Regions from separate parts of the Homo sapiens genome. Here region 1 is linked to region 2. The links come from fine-mapping of genetic effects on gene expression. Tissue or cell type: whole blood. Region 2 holds a variant in brackets; the other region holds the start of a gene. All regions are shown on one strand. Distances are from middle to middle.

What was found. PIP is the estimated chance that this variant, and not a neighbour inherited with it, causes the effect.
Region 1: it holds the start of MED19, and the variant in region 2 is fine-mapped to the expression of MED19 in whole blood (INTERVAL, PIP 0.98).

The regions. Positions count from the first base shown.
Region 1 is chr11:57,707,483-57,715,591 of GRCh38, reverse strand. It overlaps MED19 (mediator complex subunit 19), which reads left to right and starts at 3,377. Exons shown (of 5, transcript NM_001317078.4): 1 at 3,377-3,629. The coding sequence starts at 3,413. TMX2 (thioredoxin related transmembrane protein 2) reads right to left here and starts at 2,999. Exons shown (of 8, transcript NM_015959.4): 1 at 2,785-2,999. The coding sequence starts at 2,973. TMX2-CTNND1 (TMX2-CTNND1 readthrough (NMD candidate)) reads right to left here and starts at 3,069. Exons shown (of 21, transcript NR_037646.1): 1 at 2,785-3,069. RefSeq lists an enhancer at 1-39 and a silencer at 3,407-3,746.
Region 2 is chr11:57,853,011-57,861,119 of GRCh38, reverse strand. No RefSeq gene overlaps it. Among named protein-coding and RNA genes, the nearest start is that of CTNND1, 95 kb to the right of the region's middle. The variant T/G (reference allele first, on the strand shown) is at 3,724.

The sequences.
Region 1 (8,109 bases), 150 kb after region 2:
AAAAAGAAAACAAATTCTAAGAGGTTATAAAAGGTTTATGGAAATTTTATCTTGTCTAGTCAAAGCTGATCAAGATTAGACAGATTTGTTTGTAAAGTTTATTAAAATCAGCTTTAGTATTAAAAGCACATTAATACATATATATTATATATAAAATATATTTTTTTAATTTTATTTATTTATTTATTTTGAGACAGAACTTTGCTCTTGTTGCCCAGGCTGGAGTGCAATGGCACGATCCTGGCTCACTGCAACCTCTGCCTCTCAGGTTCAAGTGATTCTCCTGCCTTAGCCTCCAGAGTAGCTGGGATTACAGGCACCCACCACCACACCCAGCTAATTTTTTGTATTTTTAGTAGAGACGGGGTTACACCATGTTGGCCAGGCTGGTCTCGAACTCCTGAGCTCAGGAAATCCACCCGCCTCAGCCTCCCAAAGTGCTGGGATTACAGATGTGAGCCACCATGCCTGGCCAAGTGTCTTATTTTCAAGGAGGATCATGGAAAGCATGGGAAGAATGCTGACAAATAAAGGTTTCTGATAACTTTGAAACTGTATCACCGGACTGGGTAAAAATTTCCAAAGTCTAATGAAAATAAAACTGGACTCATAAAATTGCTAACCTCCAGACTAATGTTTTCCATTTTTCACCCACTCTTCTGACTTAGAATCACTAAAAATTAAAACGGCCTTTTTTAGCTTGGCGCAGTGGCTCACACCTGTAAATCCCAGCTCCTTAGGAAGCCAAGTCAGGAGGATCCCTTGAGCTCAGGAGTTCAAGACCAGCCTGGGCAACATCAAGAGACCCCACCTTGAAAAAAAATTTTTAAAAATTAGCCAGGTGTGTAGTGCATGCCTTTGGTTCCAGCTACCTGGAAAGCTGAGGTGGCAGGATGGCTTTGCCCAGGAGGTTAAGACTACAGTGAGCCATGATCACATCACTGCACTCCAGCTTGGATGACAGAGCAAGACCTTGTCTCAAAAAAAAATCCAAAAAACTAAAAACCCTGCCTTTTTCCTAAGGCCTTACCAGCTAAAGCTAGTCAACGTGACTTTGAAAAAAAAATCACCACAAAAGCTTATATTTGGACAAACTTTACACACAACCTACAATCTAGGAAAATAGATTGCTATTAATCTTCCCAATTGACTGCCCTCCAGACTCTAAAGAAACTAGTTTATAGACTATACCAGATATTAAGCTTTGTTTGTCTTGTTCCATAGAAATGTCTCTCTTATTAAATACCTGTTTGCCTACATCATATACAGAGGCCTAGCTTTGAGAACTCATCTACAATGCCATCTTCTGAAATGAGACACAACAATTTAATTGAACTGGACTATCCCCCAAAATGAGAGGCTGGTTTAATGGGATCCTTTGCCGCTCAATTACTAGCCCGATTTCTCTCTCCACAGACACCAACTCAGCTTATAGTGAAACTTCTAAGGAAGTTTCAGACAAAGGAAATAAAGAAGACCAGGGACTCACACCCCAAAATATGGCATCCTGTATGCTAATCATTTTAAATTAAAGGTCCCTGGAAACCAGCAGATACTGGAAGCAGCTTTACTCTGATAACTACCTTATCTGCCTAAAGTCCAGACCTGTCAAAGAAGACAACAATTACTTCTGGTCTCTTCCCTGAGTTTTCATTAACTTACTTCAGTACAAGAAGAAAGATGGAAGCCTGTCAACACACCTGGACAGATTTTTGTCAGAAACCATTGTCTGCTCTGCAGGCCCAACAGTCATTGTCCCAGGCCACTGTATGTTCTCCAGGCCACTGAATCACCCTAAAAATCATTTACGATCCACCTTAAAATCACCCACATTTTCCCATCTCCCATATTCCTATGAAAGAGGGTATATAAGCATCTGTACCCCACTGGGTCATTCTCCTGCAATTCCCTCATGCTATGCACGTTAAAATAAAATTTCTATGCCTTTCTCCTATTAATGTGCCCTTTGTCGGTTGATTTTTCAACAAACCCTCAGAGAGCAAAGGGGAAGCTTTTCCTTGGCCCCTACATGCTATATGGCAGAAGGGAAAGTGCTTTAAGTTTATGTTCCGAGCAGTCCCTCCACCCATACCAAGGAAGCACAGCAAGGAGCTTGGGACACTTCCCAAAGAAATCCCAAAGATTTCTTTACAACGTATTTTTTACAATTCCTTTACAGTAGCCCCCAAATTTTATCCACTTTCGCATCTTCAGGATCAAGCAGAGTGCCTAGAGTGTACACTCTAGAAATGTTTATTGAATTAAGAAGCGGCTGACAGTGTTGTGCAGGTAGTGTGGCCAGAAGAGTAGTTTCAAGTCCCAGGCACTCATTAGTTGTATGACCTGGGGCAAGTCACCTAAATATACCGAGATCCATTTCTTCACCAATGAAACAGGAATATTACTACTTGCCTTGTCTACCTTACTGGCTCCTCAGGAGGCTTTACATAATGAGCGGCACTGTAAAACGTTATACACGTGTATGTACAGTTTTGATAGGGCTGTTAATTAGTCTCAATGGTGAAACAGAAAGAAACCTGGACTCAACAGTCAAAAGCTGTTGGGCCGTTGTGCATGGGCTACGACTAACATGTTCCGTTTTCCCATCTTAAACACAAAGTTTAGACTCGATGATGGTTCGGACCCTGCACTTAATAGTCTCTAAGTCCGCTACAGGCTCGGAACCTCAGGTGTCCTCAGAGAGGTAAACCCCAGGGTTCCCAGATACACCTGCAAGGGCAGGGACAGTCAAGGTCGCGGGGTACTAACACGCGGGAGGCTCACCCAGTCAAAGTCACACGGGTTACCGTCTTCGCGTTGGGTGGGCAGACCGTGGCAGAGCGGCGGCAGTTTCCTCACGAGTAGGAAGGCAGCAGAGAGCAGGGCCGACAGAAGGTAGTAAGGTTGGGCGAGCCATCGTGAAAGTCGCGGCACCGAATACACGAGAGCAATTAGAGGTGCCAAGACCGCCATCTTTTCGGCCGTAACGGCCACTGCTCGCCGGCGTCGTAGGTCTCGCCCCGCCTCCCCCACCATAACGACTGCTATTGGGCTATATCGCAAACGTACGGCCTCTAAACCCGGATGTAGTTCTCTGAACGCTGTGGTAGGTCAGAACCCAAAAAAGAACTTAATATTTTATTGGTTAGTCTAGTTGTCGCTTTATCCGCCTAAGTCATTTTATTGGACTGTAGCAAGCAGAGCTAGCAGAAGACTCTAATAAGGTTAAATAGCACTTCCTGAACGTTCTCATAAGGCGACGGAAGTAGTTGTTGAAAAAAGGTAGGCGGTGCCTGAGGCATCCAATGACAAGCGGCTCCTTGAGAAAGGGCGGGGGGGTACTCCTTGAAAGCATTGTCCAATGAAAATTACCAACGGCAGACACGGAGACAGCGCCGGGGCGGAGGGTACGATGGAGAATTTCACGGCACTGTTTGGGGCTCAGGCTGACCCACCACCGCCCCCAACCGCACTCGGCTTCGGACCAGGAAAGCCTCCACCCCCGCCACCGCCTCCTGCGGGCGGGGGACCCGGCACGGCCCCGCCTCCCACCGCGGCCACGGCTCCTCCTGGCGCGGACAAGTCAGGAGCTGGCTGTGGCCCTTTTTACCTCATGAGGGAACTGCCAGGTGAGTACTCGGCCTTGCCAAAGCCAGCCAATCAAATCTTAGAGAGGAGGTGATGGGCGTGGCTCTCAGCCGGCTAGCGGAGGTGCGAGGTAACCTAGGCAACGCATACCCGGACTGTGGAGCCCTAAGTCGGAAGCGCTGTTAGGATTCACAAGCAGAGGGATGACTTGAATTCAACCAGGATGAGTTGAATTCAACCAAAGGGATGAATGGCGGGCAGGGGCGTAGTGCATCTCCGTTACTGTCTTTTGCACCATGTCCAGGCTGTGTCCCTGACACTGGTTTATGTCTCTCTAAAAAATGACCTAGGGCTGGGCGCGGTGGCTCACGCCTGTAATCCCAACACTCTGGGAGGCGGAGGCGGGCGAATCACCTAAGGTCAGGAGTTCGAGACCGGCCTGGCCAACATGATGAAACCCTGTCTCCACAAAAAACACAAAAATTACCTGGGCGTGGTGGCGTATACCTTTAATTCCAGCTACTCGGGAGGCTGAGGCGGGAGAATCGTTTGAACCCCGGGAGGCGGAGGTTGCAGAGAGCCGACATTGCTCCACTGCACTCCAGCCTGGGCGAACGAGACTCCGTCTCAAAACAAACAAAATCCAGGGTTTGAGTTTGGAACTCGAGAGGCCTGATTTAATATCTTTGGGGACCCAAAGTTTTAGTTACAGGTCTCCCACAGACTTGCTATTGGTTTGGGGCAAGTTGCCATTCTTCCTTCTAAGGTTCCGGCATTTCCTGGTCTGATCAAAAAAGGGATAAGAATCGAACCAAACTCTTCATTCAAAAAATTATTTTGTTGAGTACCTATGTACCAAGCACTTTTCTAAATGCTGGAGACAGTTGTGAACAAGACTGACAAGATGCTTGCCTTTTTTGGGATGTACATTTCAGTGGAGGAGGCATTGTAAACAAGATAATGTCAGAAAGTGGTTAATGCTAGGAAAAGAAAACATGATAAAAATTGAAGGTGGCCAGGCGCGTTGCTCACGCCTGTAATCCCAGCGCTTTGGGAGGCCGAGGCAGAATCCCTTGAGCCCAGGAGTTTGAGACCAGCATGGGCAACATGGCGAGACCCAGTCTCTACAAAATATACAAGATTAACCGGGCGTGGTAATGCATGCCTGTAGCCCCAGCTACTCAGGAGGCTAAGGGAGGAGAATCGCTTGAACACAGGAGGTCGAGGCTGCAGTGAACCAAGATTGTGCCACTGCACTCCAGCCTGGGCAACAGATGAGACCCTGTCTCTTAAAAAAAAAAAATTGAGGGGCAGAACTACTTTAGCTAGAGTGGCCAGAGATGCTCTCTTCACATAGCTAACATTTGAACTAAAATGTAAGCATAGACAAAGGGCCAGCCATGTATGGACAGGAGGGAGAGACAATTGTAGATACAAGAAATGAGGTCAGAAACCCTGATGTGAGAAAAAGCTTAGAATATCTGAGGGACAGAAAATCAGTTGGACTCCAGTGAAGTGAACAAAAGGAAAGAGTGTTAGGGAGAGAGATGAAGCTGGGAGAGTTAGGCAGAGGCTTTTATAAAGCAGTAAAGGCATTTAGATTGTAAATACAAAAGGAAGCCATTTAAAAAATTTTTTTATAGACACAAGGTCTCACTGTGTCACCCAGGCTGGACTGCAGTGGTATAATCATAGCTCACTGTAACCTCCAGTTCCTAGGCTCATGCTGTCGTCCCACCTCAGCCTTCCAAGTAGCTAGGACTACAGGCATGCACCACCACAGTTGGCTAACTTAAAATTTTTTTGTAGAGACTGGGTCTTACTGTGTTGCGCAAGCTGGTCTTGAACTCCTGGCCAACAGCAGTCCTCCCGCCTTGGCCTCCCAAAGTGCTAGGATTATAGGTCTGAGCCACTGTGCCCAGCCAAGGAAAGCCATTTTAACATAGGAAGTTGGTCAAATGCACTTGTTTATAATCATTTAAGCAGCCACATGACAAATAGAAAGTGGGGAAATTAGTCAGAAGTTACTGCTCAGTAGTCCAGGAAAGATAATGGTTTGAACCAGAGCATAGCAGGGCATAGAGAAGTAAATGGATACAGGATGTTAGAGGTAGAGCTGACAGGGTTGAAAAATTGAATACAGGGCCAGGCGCTGTGGCTCACGCCAGTAATCCCAGCACTTTGGGAGGCTGAGGTGGGAGGATTGCTTGAGCCCAAAAGTTTGAGACCAGCCTGGGCAACATAATGAGACCCCATCTCTACAAAAAATAAAAATAAATTAGCTAGGGATAGCAGCATGCACCTGTAGTCTCAGCTACCTAGGAAGATGAGGTGGTAGAAATCACTTGAGCCCAGGAAGTTGAGGCTGCAGTGAGCCATGATTGTGCCACTGCACTCCAGCTTGGATGATAGAGGAAGACCCTGTCTCAATTAAAAATATATATTGTATATAGAAGTGAAGGAAATAGAGGAATTGATGCCTTTTTAAGTTTTCGGCTTGAATAATTGGGTGTATGGGTACGGAGACTTGGAAGATGAGGAAGGAACAAGTTTGAAGAGGTGGAAATCAAGAGTTATTTTGGACATGTTTGGTCTCCAAGATGCCTCTTTTTTTTTTTTTTTTAAACAGAGTTTTGCTCTTGTTGCCCAGGCTGGAGTGCAATGGCACAATCTCAGCTCACCACAACCTCCGCCTCCCAGGTTCAAGCGATTCTCCTGCCTCAGCCTCCCGAGTAGTTCGGATTACAGGCATGTGCCACCACACCCAGCTAATTTTTTATTTTTAGTGGAGACAGGGTTTCTCCCTGTTGGTCAGGCAGATCTCAAACTCCCAACCTCAGGTGATCCGCCCACCTTGGCCTCCCAGAGTGCCAGGATTACAGGCGTGAGCCACTGCGCCCAGCCTCCCAGATGCCTTTCATTGTCTCAAGTCTTATTTCCACATCATGACTTGAGGGAAATAGCAACAAATATTGGTATAGTACTTTGAAGTTCACAACACACTTACATGCAGTATTTAATATAAGTAGTATTTAATACTTAGAATAGCCCTTTGAGGTAGCATTACTGTCTACATTTTATAATTGAAAAAACTGAAACATGGAGAAGTTGACATCCCTTTGATTAGTTAGTGGTTGATGTCCACCAGCGGTTTCTTTTAATCTTTCTTTTGCCTTCCCTATTCTGATTGTAGCTATTTGTATCAGTCAGTTGACAGATATTGAATATATGTTCTGGGCAAATGCTGGGTGTATGAGGCGGGTGAGATGGAGAGAGAGATTAGTAATGCTGGTCATTGCTTTTCAAGGAGTTTAGTTAGGAATGTAAAATTTGTGGTTTAAGGATAGTGACTATATTTCCTGTCACCTCCATCTCATTTTGTGCTCATGCCTCACAACAGCAATTAACAATATCTTAGCCATCAATATTAAGAACTACCTAATGGTTTTCAAAGTGTGTTGCTATCCAGAATGACAGTGAGAATAAGATGTCACTTGAGCTAGACCTTGAATAATCCATATTGGTGAAGAAAAATTAGGAAGAATTTTCCTAAGATGAAATAATGTGAGGGGTGTTTTTTTGAGGCGATAAGGAGATCCATTTGGATGGATCAGAAATTTTGCATAGGAGAGTAGTGGTTGATGAGGCCCCAAAGCTAAGTTGGAGTAAGATGTAATTAGCCTTGAGTGCCAGTCAAAGGAATTTGAGCTTTCTCCTGAGGGCAAAAAGAAACCATTAAGATTTGTGAACTGAGGAGTACTGATTTCCAAAAATATCTGGAACATGTGGGTGCCATGGATTGAAATAGAGAAGCCCTGAGTGATGTTGGCAAGATTTGGAATTTCAAAACAATTTTTTTTTTTTTTATCTTGTTGGGCAGGGTGGTTCACGCCTGTAATCCTAGCACTTTGGGAGGCTGAGGCAGGCAGATAGCTTGAGTCCAGGAGTTCAAGACCAGCCTGGGCAACATAGGGAGACCCCTGTCTCTACAAAAAATACAAAAATTAGCCTAGCATGGCAGTGTATGCATGTAGTCCCAGCTACCTGGGAGGCTGAGGCAGGAAAGTAGTTTGAGCCCAGGATGCAGAGATTGCAGTGAGCTAAGATTGTGCCATTACACTCCAGCCTGGGTGACAGAGCGAGACTGTCTCAAAAAATAAATAAATATAAAAAGTAATCTTTGTAGAATAGTCAAAACTGGAATTTGAACTCTCAAGTTACAGTTTAGAAAAAGCACAGACTGCCTTCTCACCTGAGCCTTAAGGATAACCATCTGGACAGAGGAGAGTTGGCAGAGCAGGGGAAATTCAGAAGATTGTAATGGCAAGAGGCAGTGCCCAGAGTTATGAGGAGAGATACTGTGACATTGGGTCTCCTGCCATTACCCTCGCTCAGTCTTCTGAGTTGTTTGGTAGTAAAGGGAAGGAAAAGGATGAATAAGGCCTAGAGGTATAGAGGGAAAGTGCCTTGTTTATTTAATAAATATTTATTAAGCACCTAATGTGTGTACTGTGCTGGGCA
Region 2 (8,109 bases):
CAGCAAAACTGGCCAAAGTGATATCTAAAAGTAAACTAAGTAATTTTGATAATGGCAAAAAAGTTAAGCAGTTCATATGAGTTCTCACAGCTAGTAAAGATATGAAGGACCTGGTTAGCTAATAAACATGAAAATCTCATTTTTTGAAGTAGCAATTAAAAATCTCAAGATACACTTTCTTGGCTTTTGGTAAGCAATGTGGTTTGTTTTTGTTTAATTTTTTAATTGACGAATAACAATTGTACATATTAATGGGGGCACATACTGATGTTTCGATACACATAATGTACAGTGATCAGATCAGGGTAATTAGCTTATCCATCACCTCAAACATTTATCAATTGTTTGTGTTGAGAATGTTCAATATCCTCCCTCTAGCTATTTGAAACTATATATTATTGTTAACTATAGTCATCCTATAGTGGTATAGGACACTAGAATTTATTCCTCCTAACTAGCTGTAATTTTGTAGCCTTTAATCTCTCCCTATTCCTCCCTTTTCCCTACCCATCCCAGCCTCTAGTACCCTCTGTTCTACTTTTTACTCCTATGAGATCAACTTTTTTTAGCTTCTACATATGAGTAAGAACATATGGTTTTTAACTCTCTGTGCCTGGCTTATTTCACTTTACATAATGTCCTCCAGTTCCATCCATGTTGCCAGGAATAACAGGGTTTCATCCTTTTTTATGGCTGAATAATATTCCATTGTGTATACATACCAATTTTCTTTATCCATTCACCTGTTGTAGAACACCCAGGTTGATTCCATACCAAAATACACTTTTACAGCCACCTAATCTCCAAAAAAATCTGACCAGCCCAGTGTTAGTGGATGTGGAATGTGGGGTGGGGTGTGAATTGGATTGACCACTTTCAACAACAATTTAGCATCAAAATAAACATTGAAGATATATATACTCTATGATCCTGCAGTTCTATTCGTAGGCATATAATCTAAAGAAGTTCTGGCACATTTGCACTGTAAAACATGTACCAGAAATTTGTTTGTCATAGCAAAAAAGTGAAAGCAACCAAATGTCCATCAACAATAGAAATTCATGCATAAGATAGGCCCTATTCATGGCCAAGCGCGGTGGCTCATGCCTGTAATCTCAGCACTTCGGGAGGCCGAGGCGGGTGGATCACCTGAGGTCAGGAGTTCGATACCAGCCTGGCCAACATGGCGAAACCCCATCTCTACTAAAAATACAAAAATTAGCCAGGCATGGTGGCAGGCACCTGTAATCTCAGCTACTAGGGGGGTGCTGAGACAGGAGAATTGCTCGAACCTGGGAGGCGGAGGTTGCAGTGAGCCAAGATCGCGCCACTGCACTCCAGCCTGGGCAATAGCATGAAACTCAGTCTCAAAAAAAAAAAAAAAAAAAGAGGCTATTCATACATCAGAAACTAACAAGTGGCAAAAATTAATGAACTACAGGTCTCCGCATCAACATGAATGTGGCTGTAAAACACAAGATTGAATAAAATAAGCAAGTCACAGAGAATGTACAACTTATTTTTTCATTTGTATAAAATTTTAAAATAGGCAAAACTAAACAGTTATAATGTTTAAAAATGTATTACAGATAAACTATTTAAAATAAAACAAGGAATAATTGATGCAAAATTTAAGAAAGTGTCTACCTCTTATGGAGATAAAAGGGATAGAATTAGGAGAAGCACACGGGAGCCATCTCAGATCATGCTACTCCACGCGTGATCCTTGGCCCACTGGTATCTGGGTCACTTGGTAGCCTGTTAGAAATACAGAATCTCAGACTCTTTCACACACCTACTAAATCAGAATCCACACTTTAAAATGATCCCCAGGTGATTCATAAGCTATTAAAGATATTTGTAAAGTTCTATTTCTAAGGTGGATGGTACAAAAATGGGTGTTTATTTTAGCAATATTCTTTAAATGCCAGAGGTTTTAATACACTTTTGTATGTATCATATATTTTATAATTAATAATATTTTGAGGCCAGGCACGGTGGCTCACGCCTGTAATCCCACCACTTTGGGAGACCGAGGCAAGTGGATCACTTGAGCCCAGGAGTTCAAGACTAGCCTGGGCAACATGGTGAAATCCCGTCTCTATTATAAATTTTTTAAAAAGAAAAATAATATTTTTGAACTATATAGTTTTAATGATGTTTTATTTAAAAATATGTATAAAGACAGAAACAAAAATGAAGACCACAAAGATGACAAAGAACTGAAACCATTTAGACTCAAAATCCAGGGCTATTCTCACTATAATGATATAATAAGGCCCACTACCTTTTTTTTTTTTTTTACATCTCTTGTGCTGCATCAGTAAACAGAACTTTGGTTAGTTTTATGAAATGCAACATCTAACCCCTTGTTTTCTGGGAAAAAGAAACTGCAATGACTTGGAGTTAAGAATGGCCGGGTGCAGTGTTGGCTCAGGCGGGGCACGGTGGTGGCTCATGCCTGTAATCTCAGCACTTTGGGAGGCCAAGGCAGATGGATCACCTGAGGTCAGGAGATCGAGACCAGCCTGGCCAAAATGGTGAAACCCCGTATCTACTAAAAATACAAAAACTAGCCGGGGGTGGTGGCAGGCGCCTGTAATCCCAGCTCCTCAGGAGGCTGAGGCAGGAGAATTGCTTGCACCTGCGAGGTGGATGTTGCGGTGAGTGGAGATCGCGCCACTGCACTCCAGCCTGGGCAACAGAGTGAGACTCTGTCTCAAAAACAAAACAAAACAAAAAAAGAATGTAAGAATGTGGATACCACCTCACTCACACACACTCATTCTCAGGCTGTAAAAAAATCCCTCACCCTCCTTCTAGCCGGCAAGCATACAGTACCATTTGGCAAAGGTACAGCAAAGGTGGGCTTGAGACCCAGGCTCCATCTTTCTCCTCAGTAGCAAAGGAATAAGGCCCACTAACTGAGTGTTTGCCCCAAGACAGTAAATGAACAGACTGCAATGAATTTATCCATTTCTTTTCTTTTCTTTTCTTTTTTGAGATGGAGTTGCACTCTTGTTGCCCAAGCTGGAGTGCAATGGCACGATCTTGGCTCCCTGCAACCTCCACCTCCCAGGTTCAAGCGATTCTCCTGTCTCAGCCTCCAGAGTAGCTGGGACTACAGGTGCCTGCCACCACATCCGGCTAATTTTTGTATTTTTTTAGTAGAGGCGGCGTTTCACCAATTTGGCCAAGCTAGTTTTGAACTCCTGACGTCAGGGGATCCGCCCACCTCAGCCTCCCAAAGTGCTAGGATTACAGGTGTAAGCCACCGGGTGCCCCGCCGAATTTATCTATTTCTAATGGTCATGCTGCAACTGGATGGACAAAAGCCCATGATAAAAATTGATAAACTACTAGAAGCTTCAGTGGTTTGATCATTTTCATTGCAATATTCTGGAATGGGGGGTGGGTAGGAAAGCTATTTTCCCATTCAGACAGTCCCTGCCTTTAATAATACATAATGCTTTCCTGGAAAATGTTTTGGAAAGTAGAATGCCTGAAATTTGAACTTTATACTTAAATGTTTTATTTGGTGGGGGAAGGAGGAAAGGAGGAAAGGAAGGAATTCAATCCATAGAGCTAGAGAAAAAAATTATGACGTCTCAAACATGATATAAATGCTTAACTTGATTTTACATCTGAATGTTATACACCATATGCAGATATTTAAACTATTAAAAACAGATTGTATTTTATTTAATTTATTTATTTATTTAT[T/G]TATGTTTTTATTGAGACGGGGTCTCGCTCTGTCACCCAGGCTGGAATGTAGTGGCGCAATCTTGGCTCACTGCAACCTCTGCCTCCCGGGTTCAAGCGATTCTCCTGCCTCAGCCTCCTGAGTAGTTGGCACTACAGGCGTGTGCCACTACACCCAACTAATTTTTGTATTTTTAGTAGAGACGGAGTTTCACCATGTTGATTGGGCAGGATGGTCTCCATCTCTTGACCTCGTGATCTGCCCATCTCAGCCTCCCAAAGTGTTGGGATTACAGGCGTGTATCCTTGCAACTCAAAATCCTTCTGGTGTATCCTTGCAACTCAAAATCCTTCTGGTGTATCCTTGCAACTCAAAATCCTTGTTCATTCAGTTTACTTGAAATGATATTTGGCATATTCCTTCTCTCAGGGTTCACAAAGTACCAAGGAATAAGAATGGGACAGAGAGGGATACCTGCATATTGGCATTTACCATAACATCTTTATTCCCATTTGGTTTCCAACTGCCCAACCACGTTGATCATATTTATGACTCCATGTCCCAGAAGGAAAGCCTCTCCAGGCTCTCAGCTACTCCTTTTTCCCTCTCAGAGGGCAGTGGACACATCCATCCACTGTCCCATGCCACTCTGGGTTCATAGGAATATTGTCTCAGACTCTCTCTGCCTGGCCCTGCCACACGAACATTTCTTCTCAATGTCTACACTTCAAAAGGCACAGAAGCGGCCGAACGTGGTGGCTCACGCCTGTAATCCCAACAGTTTGGAAGGCCGAGGCGGGTGGATCACAAGGTCAAGAGATCGAGACCATCCTGGCCAACATGGTGAAACCCCATCTCTGCTAAAAATACAAAAAAATTAGCTGGGCGTGGTGGTGCATGCCTGTAGTCTCAGCTACTCGGGAGGCTGAGGCAGGAGAATCACTTGAACCCGGGAGGCAGAGGTTGCAGTGAGCCGAGATCGCGCCACTGCACTCAAGCCTGGGTGACAGAGCAAGACTCTTATCTCAAAAAAAAAAAAAGAAAAACGAAAAAAGGTGCAGAAGCTCTAGCAATTTGGGCCACTGGATAGATTCCTCCTTAAAGATTCACCAGACTTAGAGCTCACTTCTCCTCTGACTGTCTTCACTTTACAAGTCTAAGGAATTTTTTTCTAGTCTTTAAGAGAAAAGAAGACACTGGAAAAACTGGCTCTGACTGATCACATATTCTCATGTGCCTGTGGTTAAGGCCTGAGTTTATTCTCTGGGTTATTCTCTGAATTTATTCTCAGGATGGTTCTAGCTTTTGAAGTTCAAAAGCTTTTTAATCACAAAGGTTTTTATCTCTACCTTGAGTTTCCAAAACATATTTTAAACCTCAAAGGCCAAGGATTGACTTCTTTGGTATCTGCACTATGCTGCAACAACCCTATCCCGAGGCATGGCTGCCAAGAGGTCAAGTTTGAACTGGGAAGGACCCCCAGGTTAAAAAATATATATATTATCTGGAAAAAAACCTGATACATCAAAATAATATTCTGCTACACGTAGTTGTAAAGATCCACACATTTGTTCCATGACTGCACCTTATTTTTAGCCACAAGCTTTGCCAACATACTTATAACATTTTGTACATGTGTTTTAAGTTTGACTGTTTTCTTTTATAATTGAACACAGTTGTCAGATCTGCTTAAATTTGATAAGCATCAAAATTTACTGTTTCTGGCATACTAAATAATAGCTTCCTTTGACACAATTGGAAAATCATTAACATCAGCACTTTATTTTTCCAATTCCACTATACTTTTATAAATAAGGGCAAATATGCAACAAAATGTTCAAATCACTGCACAGACATTGCCATATTTAGATGGCAACACTGCTAAAATGAAACTATTGGCTGGCAGACAACAGTAACATAATGTAACTTGAAATAGTTATTTGTCTACTAAAATAAGAAAGTCAAAATTTGGTATAGAAAAGTTTAGAAGTGTTTATGTGTAATATATGGAAATGATAGTCATGTAAAAGCTAATGACTACCTGAATTTTGATTCATTAATTTTTGTTCATCTTCACCTAGCTCCATATCTCTTAAATATAAACAATTATTTTAAAAAATTATTTGTAACAGCTTTATTTAGATACAAGTCACATACCATACATTTCACCCATTTAAAGTATATAATTCAGAGGCCGAGGTGGGTGGATCACTTGAGGTCAGGAGTTCGAGACCAGCCTGGCCAACATGGTGAAACCTCATCTCTACTAAAAATACAAAAATTAGCTGGGCGTGTTGGCGGGTGCCTGTAATCCCAGCTACTCAGGAGGCTGAGCCACGAGAATCGCTTGAACCCAGGAGGTGGAGGTTGCCATGAGCTGAGATCTGCCATTGCTCTGCAGCCTGGGCAACAAGAGCGAAACTCCGTCTCAAAAAATAAAATAAAATAAAACTAAAGCATACAATTCAATGAATTTTAGTGTATTTACAGAACTGTACAACCATCACCACAATCAATTTTAGAAAATTTTCATTATCCCAAAAAGAAGCCCTGTACTCTTTAGCCACCATCTGCCAATCCCTCTATACCCTGCAGTTCTTTGCAATAATTAGTCTACTTTCTGCCACAATAATTTGCCTATTTTGACATTTTATATAAGTGGAATCACAAAAAAATGTGTTAGAGATGGGTTTCTTTCACTTAACAAAATGTTCCTAAGTTTATCCATGAAGTACCTTGTATCAGTACTTCATTCCTTTTTATGGCTGAATAATATTCCATTGTATGGGTATATGGCTAGACTACTCTTTATTTATTTATCAGTTAATAGATATTTGGATTGTTTCTACCTTTCAGCGATTGTGAACAATACCGCTATTAACATTCATGTACAAATTTTTGCATGAACATATATTTTCAATTCTCTTGGTTATATATCTAGGAGAGGAATTGCTAGGCTATAGGGAAACTCTATGTTTAACCTTTTGAGGAATTGTCAGACTGTTCCAAAGTGGCTGCATCATTTTACATTTTCACCAACAGTGCATGAGAGTTTCAATTTCCCCACATCCTCACCAACACTTATTATTTGTCTTTTATTATTATAGCCATCCTAATGAATATGAAGCAGTAGCTCATTGTGGTTTTGATTTGCATGTTCCTGATAACTAAAATCTTGAGCACCTTTTCATGTGCTTACTGGCCATTTTGATATCTTCTTTGGAAACAACTGTCTATTCAGATCCTGTGCTCATTATTAGTTGGATTATTTGTCATTTTATTATTGACTTGTAAGAGTTCTTACACAATCTAGATAAAAATCCTTTAACAAATAACATGATTTTCAAATATTCCTCCCATTGAATATCTTTTCTTTTCATTCTCTCATAATGTCCTTTAATTTTTTTATGTTTTTCTAGGGTTTTTTTTATTATTATACTTTAAGTTATAGGGTACATGTGCACAATGTGCAGGTTTGTTACACATGTATACATATGTGTTGGTTTGCTGCACCCATTAACTCGTCAATTACATTAGGTATTCCTCCTAATGCTATCCCTCCCCCATCCCCCCACCCTATGACAGGCCCCGGTGTGTGATGTTCCCTGCCCCGTGTCCAAGTTTTCTCATTGTTCAATTCCCACTTCTGAGTGAGAACATGCGGTGTTTGGTTTTCTGTCCTTGCGATAGTTTGCTCAGAATTATGGTTTCCAGCTTCATCCATGTCCCTACAAAGGACATGAACTCATCCTTTTTATGGCTGCATAGTATTCCATGGTGTATATATGCCACATTTTCTTAATCCATTCTATCACTGATGGACATTTGGGTTGGTTCCAAGTCTTTGCTATTGTGAATATTGCTGCAATAAACATACATGTGCATGTGTCTTTATAGTAGCATGATTTATAATCCTTTGGGTATATACCCAGTAATGGGATCACTGGATCAAATGGTATTTCTAGTTCTAGATCCTTGAGGAATTGCCACACTGTCTTCCACAATGGTTGAACTAGTTTACACTCCCACCAACAGTGTAAAAGCGTTCCTATTTCTCCACATCCTCTCCAGCACCTGTTGTTTCCTGACTTTTAAATGATCACCATTCTAACTGGTGTGAGATGGTATCTCATTGTGGTTTTGATTTGCATTTCTCTGATGACCAGTGATGATGAGCATTTTTTCATGTGTCTTTTGGTTGCACAAATGTCTTCTTTTGAGAAGTGTCTGTTCATATCCTTTGCCCACTTTTTGATGGGGTTGTTTGATTTTTTCTTGTATATTTGTTTAAGTTCTTTGTAGATTCTGGATATTAGCCCTTTAGATGGGTAGATTGCAAAAATTTTCTCCCATTCTGTTGGTTGCCAGTTCACTCTGATGGTAGTTTCTTTTGCTGGCCAGAAGCT